2 linked regions of the Homo sapiens genome follow. The gene in region 1 interacts genetically with each later gene. Each region holds a gene or a part of one and is shown in the gene's direction. Other genes may lie near its edges. The genes, in order: SZT2 and GBF1.

Region 1 (3,817 bases):
CTCCTGTCCTCGTGATCCGCCTGCCTCGGCTTCCCAAAGTGCTGGGATTACAGGCGTGAGCCACCGTGCCCAGCCTAAGTTAAGCATTTTTTAACTCCCTGATTTGCATTTCTGAAAATTTTATCAGAAGGTAAAGAGATTGAAGAGTTCTGCCCCTGGGTGTAATAAAGTTATTGACTTTTAGAGGCTGTTAGGATCCCAAGAGAGAAAGATTGGGTATAGTCAGATTTAGGAAATCATTCATTCATCACACACTTGAAATATTTTACGAGTGCTGGTAGGAGTCAGAATTGTGCTAAGTATCAGGGTGGATACAGAGCCGTGTAAGACAGACATGCTCTCTATCTTTATGGAGTAAACAAGGATTGAATTAGGATAATAAGTGCTGTAAAGGAGTGAATTAGGGTGTTTAACAGTGGTTCTCAACCTACCTTGTTAAGAAATGGGGAGGCAAGGGGTTGTGAATAGGAAGACTCAGAAGAATGACATTTAAGCTGAAGCCTGAAGAATAGGTAGAAGTTTTCTAAAAGAAGAGGCAGAGAGCATTGCAGGCAAAGGGAATAGTGAAGATCTTCAGGTGAGAAGGAGCCCAGTGGAGCCTTCAGAGAACTAAGAGGAAGCAACTCCTTGTGTGGATGCAGTTTGACAATGAGAATAGCTAGCACTTACTGAATGCTTACTGAGTATCATCTGATACTCAAAAATTATCTGAAAATAAGCACTTTTATTATCTGTGTTTCACAGATGAGCTAACTGAGGCATAGAGAGTGTAAGTCTCTGCCAAAACTATATAGTTAATAATCAGCAGAGCAAGCATTTGATCCTAAGTGCTCTAACACTGGAATACATGCTTTTAACTGCGTGGGGATTGGTGAGAGATAAGGCTGGAGAAGATGCAGCTTGAGGCCATGCTAGAGGCTCAGGACTTTGATGTATAGTGGTAAGAAGATTTTAGCCAGTTCAAGAGGGGAAATAATCCACATTATTTTGTGGGAATGTGTTAACAAAAGACAGCACAAGGGTTAGAAAAGGCTGAACAAATCAGACCTTAATCACAAAGGGACAGGCACAAAAAGACAAAGCAACAAATTAATGAGATGGACCATGCTTCATTCTTCCTGGTATACATGGTATGCAGCACAGTGCCTGGTAATGTTTTATTCATCTTGGTATAAATGGTATGTAGACCTCAATAAATATTCCAAAGAATGATAGCCTTCCTCTCCTGTTTAATTGCAACGACATCCCTATGAAGATATTCTTATCCACATACTATCAATAAAGAAACCGAGGCTTGGAAAAATTAAGTAACTTGTCCAAGGTCACCTATATAGCAAATGATAGAATCAGATTTGAATCCAGGTCCCTGACCCCGAAACTCTACTTTGTCTTCCTTGCCAGACTACTCTGAGAGTAATGAACTTCAGACTCAAGGAGGATTCATATGAGGACTTGAAGCTCCATGTGAGTGTGGATGCTCTGAGAACTAATTCAGGGATTCTCAAATGTTAATGTGGAAGAATCACTTGGAGACCTTGTTAGAATGTAGATTCTGGAGCCCATCAACTCTTTTTTTTTTTTTTTTTTTTGAGATGGAGTCTTGCTCTGTCGCCCAGGCTGGAGTGCAGTGGCGTGATCTTGGCTCACTGCAACCTCCACCTCTCAGGTTCAAGCAATTCTTGTGCCTCAGCCTCCTGAGTAGCTGGGACTACAGGTGTGAGCCACAGCACCCAGTCTGGAGCCCATCAACTCTTAATTCAGTTGGTCTGGGGTGGTGCCTGGGACTCAACGCTGTATTTTCATAAGCACTTCAGGTGATTTTTCATGCAGCTGGTCCTTGGATCCCACTTTGAAAAACACCATTCTAGCTGCTTAAATTATTAAGTCTTCTAGTTATGATAAATTACATCTTGAAAGTGAAGAGAACTTAGAAATGATGTTTTGAAAATATAGTTGTTGGGCTGGGCGCGGTGGCTCATGCCTGTAATCCCAACACTTTGGGAGGCTGAGGCGGGTGGATCACCTGATGTCGGGAGTTTGAGACCAGCCTCACCAGCATGGAGAAACCTCGTCTCTACCAAAAATACAAAATTAGCCGGGCGTGGTGGCGCATGCCTGTAATCCCAGCTACTCGGAAGGCTGAGGCAGGAGAATTGCTTTAAATCCAGGAGGTGGAGGTTGCGGTGAGCCGAGATGGTGCCATTGCACTGTAGCCTGGGCAACGAGAGCGAAACTCCATCTCAAAAAAAAAAAAAAGAAAAGAAAAAGAAAATATAGTTGTTGACTTTGAAGGATCATATGTAAAGGGGGATGTTGCAAGAAGACTAGGCAAATGTTCAGCAAATGTTCTTGATTTCAGGAAGGTGGATTCTGTAAGAACTGATTGATGAGCTAGACTTCATTGTGCCTTTGGAGAGTCAGTCCATCATTCAAAATAACCTTCAAGGAAAGGTGGGAAAAAATGGAAGCTGTACAGTAGTAAAATTTAGTGGCCTACTAACTGGTAATTGGAAGAAAGCTTTCTAATAGTCTGTGCCCTCTGTCTCGTTTACCCCCATTCTCTCCTCACTTAACAAACCTTGCTCAACCTTCAGCATCACTTTCTCTTAAGGTATTAGCCTGAACAGGTTACTTTGTTACTTGCTTGCTTTTTTGGGAGGAGGGGGAGGTCAGGGAGTGGGGCAGGGTCTTGCTCTGTCATCCAGGCTGGAGTGCAGTGGTATGATCATGGCTCACTGAAGCCTCAACCTCCCTGGGCTCAGGCGACCCTCCCACCTTAGTCTCCTGAGTAGCTGGGACTACAGCCACATGACACTACACCCAGCTAATTTTCATAATTTTTTGTAGAGACAGGGTTTTGCCATGTTGCCCAGGCTAGTCTCAAACTCCTGAGGCTCAAGTAATCCGCCCACTTTGGTCTTCCAAAGTGCTGGAATTGCAGGCATGGGCCACTGCACGTGGCTGTTACTTGTTTTTGTAGAACCACATTCTTATCCTTCGGAGCACTTACTCAGTGTGTAATTATACAATAGTCACAGTGATTATTTGATCAATGTTTTTGTCCTTCACTATAGAATATGTTTTATGAGAGCAGGGAATGCATGTGTTTGCTTTTCATTGTATCATTAGGACCCAGCCCAGTGCCTAGCATGTACCAGGCTTTTCATAAATTTGTTGAGTGAATGCATGCATGCTTACCTTGCCTTTGTTCTTTTTGGAGTTCGATGAGGACATGATGGCACCCTGAACAAGTTAGCATGGAAATCAAACTGGAGAGATTTAGTAGAAGAAGAAACAACACTCTTAAGCTTCACCATAAAATAATAGGCTGAATTTATCCAAGTGACAGGACTAATTGAATGATCGTATGTGTCCAAAAAAGCCAGGTGCATGAGGATAAAATGGGAGATGTGTTTGGACAGCAGCACAAGTGAGAAAGTCATGGAGGTTTCCTGAGCAAGTATAACCTAGGAGAATCTGAATCTGTGACCTCATTTGAGTATTATGTTCCATTCTGGTCCCCACATTTTAAGTTGTAAAGTAGACCAGCCAGAATTCATTCATGGGCACATAATCTAAGATATAAAATAGTGAGGAAACTTGAAACCATGCCATTTGAGACACACTTAAAGAACCCAAAGATGTTTGTTTTAGAAAAGTAAAGACTCAGGGCTGTCATCACATGTTTAATAGACTCTCGTTTGGCAGAGGGTCAGATTCTCCCTGTGTGGCCTTAGAAGGTAAAACAAAAAGTGGGTTAGATATTTTCAAGACAACAGATTTTAAGAGTAGGTCAAGATATTATCAAAAAGACAGA
Region 2 (3,817 bases), on another chromosome or scaffold:
GCTTGGGTCCCAGTCAAGGCAAAGAAGACCCAGCACAGCTTGGGAGGTAGCAGGAAGGACATAGGATTTCCAGTGGGCATGATGGATGGGGTTCTGTCCAAGGGAATCAGGAAGGGCTGGCCAACCTAGAAAAGGGACTGGGGTGGGGAAGTGGGTTTTTTCGCTTACCTTTTCCTAAGTCCTATTTACTGAAAACCCAGGAGTTCCTTAGGTGGGGCTTCAGTGTTGACACAAGGGGAAAAAACTTACTGGCCTGTCTCTAGGAGTTTCGCAAAAATCTGAAAGGTGTGAATGGAGGCAAGGACTTTGAGCAAGACATCCTGGAGGACATGTACCATGCCATCAAGTGAGTATACATAGAGAATAGTGCAGTATCTCTGTTAAGAAGAAGCACATTGCTTCCTTTCCCAGTTTTTAGAGTCATGTCAGACTGCAGTGACTCACATGCCCTGGATTTAGCCTCAGGACTTAGTTGGGCAGCCCCCTCTCTGCCAACTGTTTCTTCCTTAAAGAAGCCCAAATGATATTGGGACTCTAGTACTCTAAGCCAGGGTCCAAAGTGCTGCTCTTAAGTAGGATATCATGGCCCCATTTTCTGAACTTAAAACAGGTACATTTTCCTGTATAGATTACAAGATGCTGGCTGGTAGAGAACCCAAGATGGGCACTGGAGTGTGAGGCCCAGGTTACAGGTCAGAAATGGGCCACTTAGTTTTTTACTGTAAATCAGAAAAGGTAGAATTGTTCATTTTATCACACCTAGTAAGAATGTGTGATCTTACTATAGAACTAAAGGCCTCACTTACAGATAGGGCTTTGAGATTATGGGACACTTCCTTTCTTTCTGTCTGCTCCCACTGGTGGGTGGAAAGCAGACCACTGAGCTGCAGTTCTGATGACCTCTCATCAGTGGAGAGTGCTAGTATGGATGAACTCCTAGTCTTGGTTTGGAACTAGTCAGGTTCAAAGCAGTGCAACTGCTCCTTCCCTTACCTCCTGACAGGAATGAGGAAATTGTAATGCCTGAGGAGCAGACAGGCTTGGTTCGGGAGAACTATGTGTGGAATGTGCTGCTTCATCGAGGTGCCACCCCTGAGGGCATATTCCTGCGTGTGCCTACTGCCAGCTATGATCTTGACCTCTTCACCATGACCTGGGGCCCCACTATTGCTGCTCTCTCTTATGTCTTTGACAAAAGCCTTGAGGAGACAATCATCCAGAAAGCCATCTCAGGCTTCAGGTAGCCCAGCTTTGGCCTTGGTCTTCACCTCCCACTAGCTCTGTGAGCTAACATGGTTTTCTCCATGCCTCTCTGACTCCTACTGTTACTTCATTAGAATGGGGTTCCCCCTGAGTTTTTGGAGGGAGGCTGAAGCTTGGGTAGGCTCAGTCTTAAACAGAAACAAAATTAAAAGGTTTCTTCCTGGGACTGACTGGGGAAGAGCCCCATGCAAGCTCAGGGACTTGGAAGGGCTGCTTGGCCTTCCAGTGACTCTGTTTCTGGGATGGGGGGTAACATTACAGGAAGTGCGCCATGATCTCCGCCCACTATGGCCTCAGCGATGTGTTTGACAATCTCATCATCTCTCTATGCAAATTCACAGCTCTCAGCAGTGAGGTGAGCAGGTGCAGGAACTGTGTACTTGGAGCTCCAAAGGAGGACCTCTCTTTTAGCCATGGATCTACCCTTATCAACAGACCTGGTTGCCCTCAGCGTCTTCCCTCACTGCCCCCACTTGAATATACCAGAGCTTAGGCCATTTCTGTCTTGCACACTCTGGGATAAAACTAGTGTTACTTCATGTAATGGGGATGGGAAAGGAGATACAGGAGTGGGGAAGGCCTTAACTAGGTTAACCCACTCCCACCAGTATTATGGGGGATTGAAGCAGAGCCAACAAAAGGACCTGAGGGAACCATCATAGGCAGAGACCTAAGAGATTTTCCTTTCCAGACATTAGCTCGGCCTTAAGTCTGTTCTCTTCCTCTTTTCCAGTCTATTGAGAACCTGCCCAGTGTATTTGGAAGCAACCCTAAAGCCCATATTGCAGCCAAGACAGTATTCCATTTGGCCCATCGTCATGGTGACATCCTGCGGGAGGGCTGGAAGAATATCATGGAGGCCATGCTGCAGCTCTTCCGAGCCCAACTACTGCCCAAGGCTATGATAGAGGTAATTCTTAGTAGGAGACTAGTGAGCGATAACAAGGCAAGAGCTGCAACATTGTATGCTACCTGTACATAGAAGTAAGTGGTTGAGAGTAATGTTGGGCCTGATGCCTGCCACAGCTCACCAGGAATGCCTCAAATGTAAGACCACAGATCTTGGGGGATAGCTGTAAAAGAAGGCTGGTAGATGCCATTGCCAGTCACCAATTGGCACAATAGCATAGGGGCAGAAGACTAGAGGAGGAAATCCAGAGAACTTTGGTGGGTGGAGGCGGGCACAAATGCAAAGGACACATGGAAAGAAATTATTTTGACTTACTTTTCCAGGTAGAAGATTTCGTGGATCCCAATGGCAAGATCTCTCTACAGCGGGAAGAGACACCATCAAACCGGTAAGAGCAGACCAGAGGCTCAGGGGCTTGGGGAGGGAGAGTCAGAACTTTGGGGCTCACCAGGCCATGTGCCCTTTTTCTACAGAGGAGAGTCAACAGTGCTGAGCTTTGTGAGCTGGCTAACACTGAGTGGTCCTGAGCAGTCTAGTGTTCGGGGCCCATCCACTGAAAACCAAGAGGCCAAGAGAGTGGCCTTAGAGTGTATAAAGGTAACTGCCCATCCACCCCTGGTGAGAAAGCCTAAACACCTTCCTATTAGATGCTACTTGGTGAACTGAAGAATAAATCATCCAGGATTTGTAACCAGGGCTGACTCTGCCCTCTCCCCCTGGCTCTTGGGGACATTCTGTTCTCTTCAGCCTTTGTCAAAGACCCCCTCTCTCTTTTGCCCTCTCTAGCAATGTGACCCAGAAAAAATGATCACAGAAAGCAAGTTCCTCCAGCTGGAGTCACTACAGGAGCTCATGAAGGTAAAGGATGAAGAAAGGAAACATGGAACAACTGGCTGAATCTGGGAGGGGTGACAGGGACAGTATTATTTCTGTCAGGGCAGGGCCAGTGGTTGGCTTCTTTTCCATGCCTACTTTCCTGCTGCTGTTCCCCTTCAGGCTCTGGTCTCAGTGACACCAGATGAAGAGACATATGATGAGGAAGATGCTGCTTTCTGCCTAGAGATGCTGCTAAGGATTGTGTTGGAGAACAGGTAAGATGAGCGTAGTCTTTAGGCAGACCCCATGCTGGGCTTGTGCCAAAGGGATGGAAGCCATCTTGCTGAGTGGGCTCTGGGGAACTGTAGGCAGCAGGGGAGAAGCTTACTCATCATACCTGTCTACTTAGGGTATAATACCAATGAGTCCTGAAAGGCCTAGGGGACCTGTTGCCCAGTGGCCCCTCTGGCTGAGACTATCTTCATTCCTTTATGTCTACACAGGGATCGTGTGGGCTGTGTGTGGCAGACTGTTCGAGACCATCTATACCACCTCTGTGTTCAGGCACAAGATTTCTGCTTCCTTGTGGAGCGGGCAGTGGTGGGGTTGCTACGCCTGGCCATTCGGCTTCTCCGGAGAGAAGAGATCAGTGCTCAGGTAAGCAGAATGCATCTTGGAGAGTGGGCAGGTATGCAAGGGATTAAGGCCACAGTTGTCAATTATGAATATGGCCTGAGACAGAGAGTACATTTAGTGCCCCATAGCATGAGTCCAGTGACCAACCACAGGGCTGGTGCAGTCTAGCGGGTGGTACTGGGAGTGAGCCTG

Evidence for each region.
Region 2: changes in SZT2 (region 1) and GBF1 together harm fitness more than expected from each alone (negative genetic interaction), as found in Homo sapiens cells (one study listed by BioGRID).

What each region holds. Positions count from the first base shown.
Region 1 is NC_000001.11:43,392,638-43,396,454, forward strand, and holds part of SZT2 (KICSTOR complex protein SZT2), read left to right. Parts: intron 1-3,817.
Region 2 is NC_000010.11:102,367,215-102,371,031, forward strand, and holds part of GBF1 (Golgi-specific brefeldin A-resistance guanine nucleotide exchange factor 1), read left to right. Parts: intron 1-263; coding exon 264-346; intron 347-1,003; coding exon 1,004-1,240; intron 1,241-1,524; coding exon 1,525-1,618; intron 1,619-1,996; coding exon 1,997-2,173; intron 2,174-2,496; coding exon 2,497-2,561; intron 2,562-2,646; coding exon 2,647-2,770; intron 2,771-2,959; coding exon 2,960-3,031; intron 3,032-3,169; coding exon 3,170-3,264; intron 3,265-3,492; coding exon 3,493-3,646; intron 3,647-3,817. UniProt on the Homo sapiens protein: Guanine-nucleotide exchange factor (GEF) for members of the Arf family of small GTPases involved in trafficking in the early secretory pathway; its GEF activity initiates the coating of nascent vesicles via the localized generation of activated ARFs through replacement of GDP with GTP.